Linked DNA regions of Homo sapiens: region 1 is linked to region 2. The links come from fine-mapping of genetic effects on plasma protein levels. Region 2 holds a variant in brackets. A gene starts in the other region. All regions are shown on their forward strands. Region 1 holds the start of FAP (fibroblast activation protein alpha). Region 2 overlaps SPPL2A (signal peptide peptidase like 2A).

The links. A credible set is the group of variants that fine-mapping cannot tell apart. PIP is the chance, under the fine-mapping model, that this variant and not a neighbour inherited with it causes the effect. Protein levels are from antibody-based Olink assays in UK Biobank. Linkage for the fine-mapping came from a reference panel and not from the study's own genotypes, which makes the PIPs less certain.
Region 1: it holds the start of FAP, and the variant in region 2 is the best candidate, but not a certain one, in a credible set for the plasma level of the FAP protein (UK Biobank, PIP 0.78).

The regions. Positions count from the first base shown.
Region 1 is chr2:162,240,115-162,248,426 of GRCh38, forward strand. FAP (fibroblast activation protein alpha) reads right to left here and starts at 3,331. Exons shown (of 26, transcript NM_004460.5): 1 at 3,208-3,331; 2 at 2,794-2,878. The coding sequence starts at 3,213. It overlaps LOC105373724 (a long non-coding RNA gene), which reads left to right and starts at 6,003. Exons shown (of 4, transcript XR_923544.3): 1 at 6,003-6,057; 2 at 8,204-8,312.
Region 2 is chr15:50,703,464-50,711,804 of GRCh38, forward strand. It overlaps SPPL2A (signal peptide peptidase like 2A), which reads right to left. Exons shown (of 15, transcript NM_032802.4): 15 at 1-4,411. The coding sequence ends at 4,337. Among named protein-coding and RNA genes, the nearest start is that of TRPM7, 21 kb to the left of the region's middle. RefSeq lists a silencer at 7,216-7,416. The variant T/C (reference allele first, on the strand shown) is at 5,002.

The DNA of each region.
Region 1 (8,312 bases), not on the chromosome of region 2:
GGTAGGAGAGAGGAAAGGAGTCAGTTGAAGGGGTGTAAGCTGAAGGCAAGGACAACCTGGGAGTAAGGGGTAGAAATTCATGTGTGCTTCACACTTTGGCAAAACTAAAAAGGGAATATTTTACAAGTTTCGAAAAAAGTTTTTCCTTATAGTTAATATTTTGTAAGTGAGCTAAATGGATTTTCTCATTTCACTACTACATTTCATATTTGTTCTTATAATCCAGTTTAATTATTCCTAAACCCTTTTAATCCTGAAGCTGGTTCTCCTGGGATGGAAGAGCCTTTCTCTTTTTTCTTTCCTTTAGACGTGATGTGAAATAACACAAATCCTTCTCTGGTATCTGTGGTGCTGACCATGCATCTTTGGGTGCAGAAAGCACTGGATTCTTACTCCCCAACTTGCAGAGGGAATTCTAGACTGCTGCACCTCCATATCCTCAGCAACTGGCATGATGATGAGCAGGGAGTTAGTAGAACTAATACACTAATATGTAAATGAATGAATGAATGTTTCCTGAGTGTGGCTTTAAGTTTCTCAGAAGAAGACAGTTCATACACTGGTGCATAAAATTCTGGGCTGAGGATATGAGGGCACCTAAGGCAAATGTGAAGTAATGGGATTTCTGATGAATGTGAGAAAGAGGCTAAGTAGGAGCTCGCTTAGCTTTGAATTCTCTGTTCTTTTTACCCCTTCCTCCTTCCCTTTCCTGCCTTGCCATCTCAGATCCTATTCTCATAGGCACTGGGCAGATGTGAGAGTGAGGACTGGACCTGGCACTCCAGACGGGAGATGATTGATTGACCAGTGAGATGTGAGAAGAAAGGAGGAAAATTAGGAGGCCACCACGCCTAACTTCAGGGCTGCCTGTGGCACTGACTTCCCCGGGTCCTGCTCAGGAAAGTAGGGTAATGACTAGTGCCATTCACAAGCTGTTTAGCTGACATTCTGAGAAGTTATTCAGCAAATTTAGAAGAGAAAGAGAATGATATAATGAACCAAAAAACAACAGTTCTCACCTTATTTATGATTTTTCTATTTCTGAATGAGTACTCAAATTTCACTGAGTACTTGAGTTTAATTTGATTATTTCACCCTATCAAGAAATCACTTTATTCTTAGAATTTTCCTGTTAGTTGAAAATAGAATTGTATTATAAATTACATAGGACTTTTATACTATATATAGTTTACGACGTATATTTATATGTAAGCTATACATAACTAAACTTGGAAAGAGGGTAGGGATTGAGATTATATGTGATCACACAAATATCTGTGTATGTGTATCTCTATACATCATTTGTAAATATGTAAATATAATGCATTTCTTATTAGAAATTATAGCTTGAATTCCATAGTGAAATTCATCCTTCCCTATGGACATGGAGGCAAGTGCCCTATAAAATTAACAAACTTTTGTTCCAAGAACATTTATTTCTGAGGGTGCAGAGTATCAATTTCAAGGTTGAGTTTCTTTAAAAATCAGGAGCTAATTTTTAATGAATTAACATTCAAAGGATCTATATGACCTAATCCACTACCTGACAATTGCTGGTATGAGGGAAATGTGGCCCCAAGACCACTGAGTTCAGAGATGAGTCTGAAAACAATTTTAACATGAAAATTTATGAAAGATATGTACACACACTACATACCTCTCAACAGCCTAAGAAGAATCTTGTGCTGGCAGAGAGCAGAAACAAAGACTGAAATTAACACTGAAGATATCAGCTGACTTCATCTTATGGGTTAACCTATTCTATTTTGTAATTCTGTGAAAATCTCATGATTATTTTTAATTTTCGAAAACATTTTTCTATGTTCTTTTTAATAGCAACAGTCCAGTCATTCAGGACTCATACATTCTTTAGCTGAAGTTATTTTATTGATCTTCATTTACTATCAGTTAACTTTTAACCAAGATATTTCCCACATTTGTTATCATAAACTTTTAGTATTTATTAGTACAAATTTTTCCCCTTTCCTAGACACAAAGACATAAGACCTGTTATTACTGGATTTTTTTTCCATTTCAGAAGCTTGAGTTTCTCTTCATAAATATTTTCATAAAAAGCTATTTCCCTAATATCACTAGATTATCTATCAACATAGTCCTACTTTATATTTAAACTAGCTCTGATATCAGCCCATAGTACCTTCCAATTTTTAGCAAAGTGAGATCAGTGTCAATCTAAGCCTTTTTTGTAAAAGGATCCAATTTATGACTGATCAAAATGCTTGCTTAACAATGTTTGGTTTTCTAATTTGATGTGCAGTGCTACTACATCTAAAACAACAACTTTGCTTTTTCTATACAGCTATTCCTGAGATCTGTATTCTCAACTTCCTCCCTAAATTTTTGGAAAGACTATTTAGTAATAAAAAAAGTCCATAGATTCTGTTTTAACTTTTCCATTCTTACTCATTTTTACTTTCCACGAGACAAACCTAATAATGAAAAGCAATGTTAGTTAAAAATGTTGTTTCTAAAGGCCTGTCAAAGCTTGTATTTAGCATATATTTTTGGGGGTTGTGGGGGTGATGCAGCATAGTTCTTAGGTTTTTCTATTGCTGAAATAACACTGTAAATCTCTTCCTACCCATGCCTTAAATTCCTCAGTATTTCTGGTCTTGCACAACAACATATCTGTGAGCTTATATGTCTTCTTAGAAATAACAGACTTACTTTGGAACATAAGCACTTAGGAAATGTTCAACCACTTGTGATCTTGCATTAGTACATTTTCCAAGCTATTCTAGGCAGATAGAGCAAATCAGAGAAAGTTCTTACCTCTTGAAGGGCGTAAGACAATGCACATCACCAATAAGGCAAGCACAGCAGAGGTGGCAACTCCAAATACGATTTTTACCCAAGTCTACATAAAATAAAGAGAATTAGGCATACACACAGTTCCTGCTAAATAGTAGAAATGGCAAGATTTTGTTTACACCTAAATCCTTTTTCTCTCGCCCCACAAAGCTTTTGATTGTTTTCCACTGATCCGGCTATAATTGCTGGAATTCTTCCAGCTCTGCAAGGACAAATGTTTCTACAGTATATTTAGAACAATTTTCCAATCCCAACCCATTGAGGAAGTAAATACTTATGTACAAATCTTCACCTTCTAAACAATAGAAAACTCTGATCACGTTCAATCCAGCCAACCCTAATTTTTTAAGAATACTTGAGGTTGCTTATACTAACCTTCATTTTTCCAGATGTTTTTGAAAGTTAGCTAATTCTGTCTTCAGAGCGTGGGTCACTGGATCTGTGAAAACCGTTGAAAAGGACCAAGTCTGTCTTTGTAGTTGGAAGCTGAAGCCAGGACAAGGTTTTTTTCTTTCCACGGACTTTTGAATACCGTGCCAAGTTTCAAAAGATTTCTGTAAAATTAGAAACAGATTTTGGGGGCGTTCTTGGCCCTCAAATGAACTGTGAGTGACTCAAGGGAAGTTTTATAGCCTTCTCATCCTTGTAACTACACCAACATCTGCTTACGTTGACATACAGAGGTTTTTATTTTTTCTTTTTTACCAGTTCAGGTTTATGTTGCATTTTCTTCTAGAATTCACTGAAGGATCACTTTAGCAAGTCATTGGGTTTTGCATAACATTTTTATTTGCCACTAAAAGATGAATTTAAAATAATGAAACTTGCAGGTCTGTACATTAAACATATATCTACTTTTTAACAGAGGAAGAACATTGAAGCCACATAAGATTTTGTGAGAAATGTGCCATATAACTGCACTTTTTTTTCCTCTGGAAGATTATGAGGTATTGCAGACAGAAATGTTTTTCTTTCAGCACAATTTCTTTGTCCATATAGCACCATATGCACTTTCAGTAAATACAGAAGTTTAAAAATTCAACTGTCTAAACCCACGGCTGCTTTACTTTAAAGAAATAAAATGCCATCTGGTGAAATTTAGTATGGGTTAGGTGTGTATGCACAGGCTAGAAAGATGGAAAGATCAGTAAGAATAATTTACCAGCAGACCTTTGGAAGAATGGAAATGGCTTTACAAGAGTGGTATTTTTGCTTTCCTCTCAGAATATCTTCTGAGAGAGGAGAACATCTAGTAATTATAAAGATTTAAAAATAAATAAAAAAGCATCTGAAAAGAAAAGTAAATCTTATGTATAATTTCATTTTGGCTAAATCTACATAATTCCAAAGAAATTGGTCATCTTGACAGATTAGTAAAATGGTTGACTGAATTAAAAAAAATACACATACAACAGTTTCTTGGAGTGTTCTGTCTGTTTTAATGCAATTCACTTGGATAGATTTTGTGGTTCCACGTAAACACAGTTGTTAAATCTACTGTGTCCTTAATTTTTCCACTAATGGTTTTCTTTTTTCGAAGTTTATAATGTTCCCAACCTGATTAAAACACTTCATGGCAACCTTTCTTGGATTGTACATGAAAGGTAATGGGGAAATGTTACCAAAACATGTTGCTGTTTGCCTTAGTCAACTTCTCTGGCTACCACGGGACACTTTCTCCAGCAAAGAGCAGGACAGTGGCTTGTGAACTTCCTTTCAGACATTCTCCAGACATCCCTCCCTGAATTCCAGCCTTATGAAAATTCTGTTGAGGAAAATGAGTCATTAGGCACTTACTGGCAGAGAACTGTATTCCTGGTGGCTGGGGCTGGGCCCTCTCCTTTGCTGTTGGTGGAGTCACCTCTTTACAAAATGAAGTAATCATTAAGAGTAATATCCAAGGTGTGCTATACACTTGTAGGTATCTCCAAGTGATTGTGAAATCCTCAGATCTCAGATAAAAGCCAGCAGCCAGGTCCTGAATGAACTGTTTCTGTGTAAGTCCTCTCAGATTGATTGTCTTCTCTGGAACACACCGTGTTCTCAGAAGTTCTGCCCTAGCCTGCCAAAGCCCCAGAGTACACAGGCACTTTTTAGTGGGTGATTTCCAAGACTTTACATTGTAGAGAGAAACTATAATAAATTATTAGGGTGTAATTAAAAGACCATGCTGAGAGCATGTTAGCTCTAGCAATTAAGAATGCACTGACATGTGACTGGTCTGAGCACCACTTAGGATTCTATGACTGTGTGTGGGTGTCCACAAGATACTCATTTAATAGGCTCTATGAAGAGGTTGGAGTGCTTTAAGATACACTTAAGTTGCCACTATTAGTAAGGGTGGGAAATGATGAGAGTGAAACAATGTCTGTTTAAGTTTTTTTGTTTTTTCCTTGGAAGGTTGGGTGAGTCAAGCTGTAACTTCTGGAAAATTCTTACTAGTTTGAACTGTTTTAAGAAAAATGAGACTGACTGCAGAAATAAAGATGTCGAGTTTTTCCATCTGAATTCATGGTTTAGGGAGGTATTGTTTTTATAAAGTCACACATGTTCATTCGTTTGAGATAATGTGAATGTATTCTAATTTTCATCCAGACAAGAACTCTCATAAAATTTGGATTTTTAAAATATTGTAATATCTTTATTAGCTTTTTTTAATTTTGGAATCAAAATGAAAATACTTTTGTCAACTTTTAAAAAACATTTACGAAACTGACTCTTATTCCTACTTTATACAATTAGTTAACACCCCATCAACATTTTTGTTGAGAAAACAAAAATGAATCAGACACAGTCTGTGCCCTTAAGGAACTTACATTCTAGTATAAGTATGGCAGGTATGTTCTTAATGTTCTTACATACTTGTTTCCTTTTGCTTCCTAAAGCTCTTGTTCAGAAATAGCCTGAAGCTGAGTTTGTGTTCTGTAGAAAGAGTGTTCTCACTGGTTGGTGATTTCTTCATGGACCTGGGAAGAGGACTGGAAAGGGCACATACCACATGCATGTCATCCTTAGTTCAACCTTTGTTAGTTCTAACCTTTGTTAGTACTGAGACTTTTCTCAGAAAGCAACTCTGGGTCTATTAAAATGCTGCAAAACCAGAAAGGATGATGATTTGTCATGTAAAAATGTAAGGGCAGCAATTAGGAGAGTAGAGGCTCATCAACTGAGTTCTTTCCAGAGAGGGACCTTGTAAGGCTGACTTTGGAATATGACTGCATTCTGGTAAGCCCACTGGATAAGTGAGCTATAACATAAATCCTTAGGTTATAAGGAGGAGAGCTTACTAGAACTATTTATTAGTAGCCAATGTTTACCTGCCAAAAATGATTTTAATTTATATGTTTTCCCAGAAAACACATCCAGCTATGTATTTCTAGAGTCTGAAGGTAAGACCATGCTGAGAGCATAAGGATGTTATCTTTTTATTTTATGGTGGGGAGATGAAAGAGAGATGTGTTTATTAACCAAAAGCCATGACAAATTATTTAAGGACAAGTTACAAGGGGAATAAGGATACAAGTGCAGTAAACATAAGCCTGATTTTATACTCTTTAAAGTAAAAATTTGCTTCTAGAGAGCCTAACAGCTCCTAACATCCTACCCATTTGATTCCTCAGATTCAATAAACATTTATTGTTTACTGTTATCTACAAAGTGATTTTAATGCATTATTTCATCTGATCCATACCAAAACTCATTTTGATGATTAGGAAACAGCCTAGAAAAACTGGATAACTTGCCCAAGATTTTAACAGGACCCAGTGTTACCACCTTACATTGCTTCTTTGTGATACTTCCTAAAGTTTTATTCCAAAGTGATAAATTTTTTTTAAAATTATAATTGACATTTCACTGATTTGCTGTTGGGGGACACTTAAGGTTGTGAGGGTAAAATAATTAAGGCTAAAATATTAATGATGTTCACATCCTCAAAGTACTTTGTTACACATATCTCAAAAGAACACAATTTCACTCTACAAGGACTGTGTTCAAAATATTAATTTGTTTACAGTTTTTTTTTAATCGGGGTCTATTAATCCGATGATTATTTATATAGTGCCTGGGTTAAAAGCTCTTCCTCCAGGGACTTGCTTAAATGAAAGGATTCAACAAAATACCCATCGTCAAAGAGATTTTTGAGTTCCAAGCTAGAAAGAGTCCTGAGGTCTTCAAAGCTCAAAATAACTATCACATAGTTATAGATCTGGAAGAAGTGGCATAATATAGCATCAGTGGGAAATGATATAGCTCAAACTATTTTTTGAATCTGATCTCTTTTCTAAAACCACAATTGTTACATAAGGAAGAATATAAAGCCACATGCCTCCTAGTTTGTAATTGGCATCTACTACCTTCATAAATGTTATAATTAGATGTCAGTGTTTCATTATCCTATCATAATTAGGGCAAGTGCTCCTTGGAGACCCAAAGGGTTAACTATCAAAATGGGGTTAGAAAAGAAACAGAACAGAGACACAACCCATTTCTTTGAGTGCTGAGGACACAAAGACTCAGAAGATAAATCAGTGCTTCATTGTCATTTAAATAGGGAAATACTACATCTTTTTAGAAGTGGTTAACCAACAAGAAGACTGTTTAAATAGTATAAATAGAATGTGTAAGCACCTATAGACTAACATAACTTGTTAACACATATTGTTTTTTCACTAGCATTTTTAGATTAGAGAATATTACTACTACTAGTTCATGTCTATTGAATACTCTTATTGATCATGACGTTTTTTTCTCAGCACTTGCACGTGCTATCTCCTTTTATCCCCAGAACATTCGTACTATTATTATCCTCATTTTACAGATGAGGACATGGATGCACACAAAATCTAAATAACTTCCCCAAAGTCCCATAACTTTTGAGTGGTAGGGATGGGATAAACCCAGATAGTCTTACATTATAACACAATTTAACCTATGTTTAGGGCTCTCAGAGGAGGGTATATATTGGCACAGTGATTGGCATGTGTGATCCAGCTGGAACTAGGAGGAGTTGAAGATGGAAGGAAAAAATACATGGGCTAAAAAACTGGACATTTTGATGAGTTCAAAGTATGAGTCCTAGTAGTAACTAGTAATAAGGTGGGAAATAAAAGAGGTTTTTACCAGATAGCAGCAGGTTGTATTTAAGATTTCAGTTCAAGTTACAACGAGGCCTAAGGTATGGTCACAGAAGTAAGTAGCTGAGATAGAAGAAAGAAGTGAAGGTCCTTAGAGATATAGTTGGCAAAGCAGTGAGAGGCTAAGATATCCTTTGGGATGTTCATCTGGGAACTTAATTCACCTCAAATTATGGCAATAATTAAGGGCAGCAGATAAATGCCTTGAGTTATATCCCCAATTCTTTATAAAACAGATGGAGAGATTTCCAGTTTAAGATGCCATACTGAACATATACACTGATCTCTTTGCCTTTGGAAACTCCATTAAGCTGATTGTAAAGGAGGAAAAGGATTCTCACATGA
Region 2 (8,341 bases):
GCGATTCTCCTGCCTCAGTCTCCTGAGTAGCTGGGGTTACAGGCGAGCCCCACCACACCCAGCTAATTTTTGTATTTTTAGTAGAGACGGGGTTTCACCATGTTGGTCAGGCTGGTCTCAAACTCCTGACCTCATGATCCACCCGCCTTGGCCTCCCAAAGTGCTGGGATTACAGGTGTGAGCCACCGCACCCGGCCTTAGTTCAAATATTTTTTATTCAAATGTAAAATATGTCTATAACTCAAAGGATAAATGCTTGAGGGAATGGATACCCCATTCTCCATGATCCGCTTATTTCACATTGCATACCTGTATCAAAACATCTCATGCACTCCATAAATATATACACCTACATGTACCCACAATTTTTAAAAATGTAAAAATAGTAATTTTTGCTTATACTAAAGCATAAATTGAAAGAGCAAAGAAAACTGGAAAGCTCATTTGTATTTATTATAAATGTATCAATTCACTAAAATCTCTATGGACAAGTAAAATATAAGAATGCCAATAGCAGATGGGTTAAAATTCTCTTTAAAAGAGAAATAAATTGCAGATTCTACTAAGGAATTGCTAATCTAAAAAAAAATCTACAAGTGCCAGGCACGGTGGCTCATGCCTGTAATCCCAGCACTTTAGGAGGCTGAGGCGGGCGGATCACCTCAGGTTGGGAGTTCGAGACCAGCCTGATCAACATGGAGAAACCCCGTCTCTACTAAAAATACTATATTAGCCGGGTGTGGTGGCACATGCCTATAATCCCAGCTACTCAGGAGGCTGAGTCAGGAGAATTGCTTGAACCCGGGAGTCGGAGATTGCAGTGAGCTGATATCATGCCATTGCACTCCAGCCTGGGCAAAAAGAGCGAAACTCTGTCTCAAAAAAAAAAAAAAAAAAAAATCTACAAGCTAGAAGAAAATATAATGTATTAGAATATCAAGGTCTTTCCCCACAAGCCTCACATTTATTTTTGCTAAACTAAACTGAGACAAAAGTAATCTACATTACAATTTGAGATAGTGATTTCTGTTGATAAGCCACAAAAATGTTCAAAGGGATTTTCTAACTTTTTTTTTTTTGCATCAAGAATTAATAAATACAGTGTATCATTATTTTAAAGACATGTTTAGGGAAAAAACCAGCTTCTCTTCCCCTTAAAGTTATTGGTGGTGGGAGGGCAAGAGAGGAAGAGATGGCAGCTTTTTAAGTGAAATTTTAATCTTATCTATCTTTTGTTCATTTTGAGTCCCCAAATAAAATATTTCTGTACTTTAATTTCTTAATCACTATTGTCAGCTTGGTTGCTACACATTTAATTACAATATAAAGTTGACATTGAGGATGAAGAAACTTAATTATACTTTTTCTTATTTCTATTTAACCAATAAGATTTTAATAGCAAATTAGAACAAGATTTTACCTCCTTAATAACTAATGGTTAGATAAAGTAGAATTTGTATCAAGTAACTCGGATTTCAGATTTCTGGATGTACCAGTTACTATGCTACTGAGGAGATACATCTAGTTGATGAAGTTAAAATATTAATTACTACTCCAGTTATATGAAACCAAATTATTTTGAGAAATTATCTTATTTTGCCAGGCGCGGTGGCTCATGCCTGCAATCCCAGCACTTGGGGAGTCTGAGGCGGGCAGATCATGAGGTCAGGAGCTCAAGACCAGCCTGACCAACAAGGTGAAACCCCGTCTCTACTAAAAATACAAAAATTAGCCAGGTGTGGTGGCACGCACCTGTAATCCCGTCTACTTGGGAGGCTGAGGCAGGAAAATTGCTTGAACCAGGAGGCAGAGGTTGTAGTGAGCCAAGATCTTGCTACTGCACTCCAGCCTGGGTGACAGAGGGAGACTCCATTTCCAAAAAAAAAAAAAAGAAATTAATTATCTCATTTCGATGTAGTAAAAAAAAAATTTTCTTTAACATTCTTCATAAAATGTGATTAAGGCTATTAAATATAAAGCTTGGATGAGGGTGCAGATAATTTTACAAAACAGCTGTATTTTGGCAAATATTTTATTATTATAAATGAAAATACAGAGTTTTAAAACGGCACTTAATCTGTTCTCTCTCTCAGAGTCTGCCAAATAAATCAGATTTCTTGGAAAATATTCAAACTTGATACAATGGAGGCAAAATTAACTCTTGTCAGGTAAGTCATTTGCCATAAACGAAAGGACCCATAACTGCATTAAGCAGAGAGGGACTGACTGTCAATGAAGCTTCTCTATTTGCAATTTATTCAGCAAAAGCGAACAATTTTTAAAAAGTCTCTAATGCAAAATTTAGTTCAAGTATCAAAGGTCTGATCAATTTTAAAAGGCATTAGTTTTATTTTTAATAAATTGAACTGGCCTTAGATGAAAGATATAGTTCTGTTCACATATTTTATACATTATTTACAGAGAAATGAAAAATCCTGCTGCCTTTGTTATCACTTGTCATTTGCGAAATTCTTACTAAAATAAAAGAAAATGGAAAGATAATTTGACCTCTGACTTCCAGGAGAATGTTCAGGCCACATCTAAAATTTACCAAAGAATGGGGAAAAAACTTTTTTCAAGTTGGAAGGTACCAGAGTGATTAGCTGGTCTAACCTACTCATTTTACAGATTAGAAAACTGAGATATGGCCGGGCGCGGTGGCTCACGCCTGTAATCCCAGCACTTTGGGAGGCCGAGGCGGGCGGATCACGAGGTCAGGAGATCGAGACCATCCCGGCTAAAACGGTGAAACCCCGTCTCTACTAAAACTACAAAAAATAGCCGGGCGTAGTGGCGGGCGCCTGTAGTCCTAGCTACTTGGGAGGCTGAGGCAGGAGAATGGCGTGAACCCGGGAGGCGGAGCTTGCAGTGAGCCGAGATCCCGCCACTGCACTCCAGCCTGGGCGACAGAGCGAGACTCCGTCTCAAAAAAAAAAAAAAAAAAAAAAAGAAAACTGAGATACAAGGTCTTGAGATGCGGCAAATTACTCAACTCTTCCTTGTATTGTAATTAAACTGAGACTAACACCAAGTCTCTTGCTGTTGTTGCCAATTCTTTTCTCTGAACCGCACTTTGTACATCCTCCACCAAGATTAAGAATCATTACCTATGGGAAAAGGGGTGGGCATCAGGAAGAAAAAAAGATAACGGGTGGGAGTGGGGGAATGTGGGATAATGTTAGGAATGCTGTATTCAACGATGAGCCATATGTATTAATACATAATTTCTTAAGAAAAATAATTTTTTTAAAAAATCAAACCTTAACATTAACAGAACCAAATTGCAAAGATCAGAAATACCAAAGTGAAACTGAATGTTAGTACTGAAATTTAAGCTACATTTAAAAAAAAAAGGCTGTCAAACCAATGAAAACTAGATTTCAGTGTCTGTCTCCTTTTAGTGACTAGTTCTATATATTATGTTTCTCTATATCTGGAAAAATGTTCTTAATATAATACACGTGCAGTCTGAAGTAATTTCAGTTCTCAAGTTTATGAAAGGATTGGGTTTAAAAAAATACTACAAAAATATGCACTTATATTTCCAAAATTATGTATTTCTAACCTCTGCAGTGATATAAGGTCCAAATTTTCACCGTTGAACCGCCTTCTTGCATGGTGTTAAACAGTTATTTCTACAGAGCAGATATAATTTGCATAAATCTTTTTTTTTGGGATGGAGTCTCACTCTGTCGCCCAGGCTGGAGTGCAGTGGCGTGATCTTGGCTCACTGCAAGCTCCACTTCCCGGGTTCACGCCATTCTCCTGTCTCAGCCTTCCCAGTAGCTGGGACTACAGGCACCCTCCACCACGCCCAGCTAATTTTTGGTATTTTTAGTAGAGAGGGGTTTCACCGTGTTAGCCAGGATGGTCTCGATCTCCTGACCTCGTGATCCGCCCGCCTTGGCCTCCCAAAGTGTTGGGATTACAGGCGTGAGCCACCGCGCCTGGCCAATTTGCATAATTCTTTACAGTAAAACCCATTCAGAAATAGTAACTACTTGTATCTACCATCAGAGCTGAAAGAAACAGATTTCGTTAAAAAAAAGTATAGGGGTGGGTCAAGGCATTTTTTTTTAGAAAAATATACTGTATATAGTACATCTCGGAAACTACACAGACCATATGTTTTATTTAATGTGAAGGCACAACTTTAACATTAAAAGCAAAGCGTTTTAGTTATTTATGATGTAACTGTCAGTACCAGCTCATAAAAATATATTTTTGCAAGCATATCATTGAAGACTCTTTCAGATTGTCAATTCAAAAGTCAATTTAAAAAGTCGAAGTCTATTTGTAGAAAATCAATGACACATTATAGCAGTTCCACATAATATTATTGCTGGACAATCTGTTCACCAGATATCACAGGGTTTTCTTCATTTGTTGCACAATCCAAATGGTCCATCATCTAGGCATAAATAAAAGACGTTAGGAAATGCAAAATTTCAACTTGCCCCCAATATTCACTACATTAGCAAAAGGATTCTTTTTCTAAAAAACACAGATTGCTCTATGAAACTGAGCACTCCTTCTGGAGCACTGTTCTGGTTCAACATCCACACTTCTAAGGAGATAGTCAGGGTGACACTGAACCTCTCAGGAAGCCTAATCACATGACTCAAAGCCAATTTGTGTTCTCTGGATCTTCCGTTATCTCCATTTCCCAATATGAATACTGCCCTTCATGGCAGTGAGAACTCCAGAACAAAAGGAAGATATTCCTGACACTTATTCCAGGACACTATTCCAGGCAGTGTCCAATCATACAAATGGGAAAACTAAAAATGGCCTCATGAGTCACTGTGAGAATACCTGCTGACTCTGGGACAGTGTGATATTATTGACACCTTGAAATAACCGTAAGATAATTTAAACTTTGGAAACATTATAATAATTTCTACAAAAAATGAACTTGAGGTCATATGATATCTGAAAACAAAACCAAGAATACATTTGCTAGGCCGGGCGCAGTGGCTCACACCTGTAATCCCAGCACCT[T/C]GGGAGGCTGAGATGGGCAGATCATGAGGTCAGGAGTTCGAGACCAGCCTGGCCAAGATGGTGAAACCCCGTCTCTAATAAAAATACAAAAATTAGCTGGGCGTAGTGGCGGGCGCCTGTAGTTCCAGCTACTCGGGAGGCTGAGGCAGGAGAATTGCTTGAACCCAGGAGGCGGAGGTTGCAGTGAGCCGAGATCACGCCACTGCACTCTAGCCTGGCAACAGAGTGAGACTCTGTCAAAAAAAAAAAAAAATACATTTGCTATAGACTATTTTAAAGAAATTATCAGCTGGGCACGGTGGCTCATGCCTGTAATCCCAGCACTTTGGGAGGCCGAAGTGGGTGGATCACGAGATCAGGAGATCCAGATGGTCCTGGCTAACACAGTGAAACCCCGTTTCTACAAAAAAATACAAAAAAAAATTAGCCAGGCGTGGTGGCAAGCGCCTGTAGTCCCAGCTAATTGGGAGGTTGAGGCAGGAGAATGGTATGAACCCAGAAGGCAGAGCTTGCAGTGAGCCGAGATCGTGCTACTGCGCTCCAGCCTGGGTGACAGAGCGAGACTCCGACCAAAAAAAAAAAAAGAAATTACCAGTTAAACTTTTCTCAAATGGTCACTTCAGCTCTGCCTATATTCTCATAAAAAATTGTCTTATATTTGGAAATGAAGGATGAAGAAACTGTTTAAATGCTTTCAGTGTTTCAGCAACTCAAATACAATTACTAAAAATAGAAAAAAGTATTTAATGCCTTTGTGAAGACTGTTAAAGACTTTTAGACTAGTGATTAAATTTCAGTATTGCGATGCACTTTTTTCCTTTCCTTCATCAAGAATTAGAAGAAGGAAAGATCAGCAAGATAAATGTTCCTATTTTTGAAAAGTGGTTCTGAAGGCTTTAGTGTTTTTTGGAAGAAGAACAAGAGGGTGGAATCATCTTGAAACAGGGTCTCTTGACTTGCCAGGCAGAAAGAATACAACGTGAGCTAAGGCTTTTGGCTGACAACTGTCTCAACTAATGGAGACAGCTTACAAAATCAAAACCTGGGCCGGGCGCGGTGGCTCACGCCTGTAATCTCAGCACTTTGGGAGGCCGATGCAGGTGGATCACGAGGTCAGGAGTTCGGGACCAGCCTGGCCAACATGGTGAAACCCTGTCTCTACTAAAAATACAAAAATTAGCCAAGCGTGGTGGTGCGCCTGTAATCCCAAACCTACTCGGGAGACTGAGGTGGGAGAATTGCTTGAACCTGAGAGGCAGAGGCTTTGCTGACCCAAGATCGCGCCACTGCACTTCAGCCTGGGCAATAGAGAGAGAGACCCTGTCTCAAAAAAATAAAAAAAATAAAAAAATAAAAAACCTGCTGATACTCTACAAGCCATTTCAAGACCCAAAACCATTTTGAGGTCTTCTAATTGCCAAAGATATCCCCTAGATTTAAGGTCACTAGTTTGTAGCAATTCTAAGGGGAAAAAAACAAAAGCCAAATCAAGACAGATAACATTAAGCAGTTCACTACATGAAACATAAGATGAAGATGTTGAACATTTAATTTTAGTCAATTTAAATGAAGAGGGGAAAGGAAAAGTATGTAAGATATATTTAGGCCCCTCTTCTTCTAGGAATTTAAAAGTTCTGGGTCTAAGAGATTAGGGCTGTGTAGAGAGAAAATTGAAGCAGCCTCAGCAGAATGGATGGTGGAGAAACCCTCTTTCTTCCCCACGATCTGCTTACCCTGGCAACTGTAATCTAATGAAATGATAGCCCACATACCCTAAATTATAACATGCTTCCCTGGTGCCTCGTTAGCACAGTAGGTAGTGAGTCAGTCCCATCTAACTTGCCTCTTCTTTCCTAATCCCCAGGTACCTCACTGGCACTATATAATCTAATCCCTGAACATAGAAATATATTAATTAAAAAAACCACTTTCAAAGTCAACTTATTGAGAAGTAAGCATCTCTATTCCCTATTTACTTTTCTTTACTGACTTTCCAATAAAAACAATACAGAAACATAAAGAACAAAGTTTTAAAAAATATGACAATAAATTAACATAAATAATACAATTAATTGACAAAATTGCCAAACATTTTCATCATATTTGGAAACAGGAAAGCTTGATTTGGAAAGATGGGCTCTGAAATCAGATCAGCTAACCTGGCATTTTCTGATAGCTCTGCTTGCTTATAATTGAACCAATCTCCAGAAATAGTCTAATAAAACACTCATTAATGCAGGGTAACTGGAGACTTGCTGATACTAAAGCAGAGTTGTTCTAACTTATCTCTGTATTCTGACTTGTCAGTTACAGCTTGTGACTTCTAAAAATAATGAGAAGTACTAGTGACATTTAACAGACACAACTCACTGTTTACTGGGTATCACAAACTGAAAACTTACTACCTGCCCAGAGAAAAATAGCCCATTGGATATTGCTGCACAAATTTAACTCCACTTATTTCATTACAGAAGCAAAAAATATCCCCTAAAATGATGACTCCTTTTCATTGTGCTATATGCCAAAGTAATTATGACTCTGCTTGATTTTTCTCTTCTGAGAAAAAAGTATCTTTATTTGCTTTATACTAATTAGAACTAAGACTTCACATAAAATCAAATAAGTGGGTCTGAGTACTGTAGCTCTTGAAGCATTCCACAAAAAATGTTCATAGGAAATACAGTGTAACTAGTTTTGGGCTGTAGAAAATAATTTACAATTAGTATTTCCAAATTAGTATCCTTTTTTTTTTTTTTTTTTGTGAGATGGAGTGTTGCTTTTGTTGCCCAGGCTGGAGTGCAATGGCGCGATCTCGGCTCACTGCAACCTCCGCCTCCCGGGTTCAAGCAATTCTCCCCCCTCAGCCTCCCTAGTAGCTGGGATTACAGGCACACGCCACCACGCCTGGATAATTTTTTGTATTTTTAGTAGAGATGGGATTTCACTATGTTGGCCAGGCTGGTCTCGAACTCCTGACCTCAGGCAATCCACCCGCCTCAGCCTCCCAAACTGCTGGGATTACAGGCGTGAGCCACCGCGCCCAGGCCAAATTAGTATTATTTTAGTGAAACCCTATAGAAACATTACTTCTTTTGATGAGAGAAACTCACAGTAAGGGCTGAAAGACTCGAAGTAAGATCCTGAAGTATTTCAATAAGGTCTCCAAGTTACAAGTGAGGTATAAGTTGCCCCCTAAAAACAGCATGGAAAGACTGCCAGGGGTACCTGGACATTTAAAGAGTCTCCAGTGAAAAGTCCTGCTTTTTACTACCAATAATCTTGCACTCAACTCTATTATCAGGCATTCGAATGAACCAAATGACTAATAGTATAAACAAAT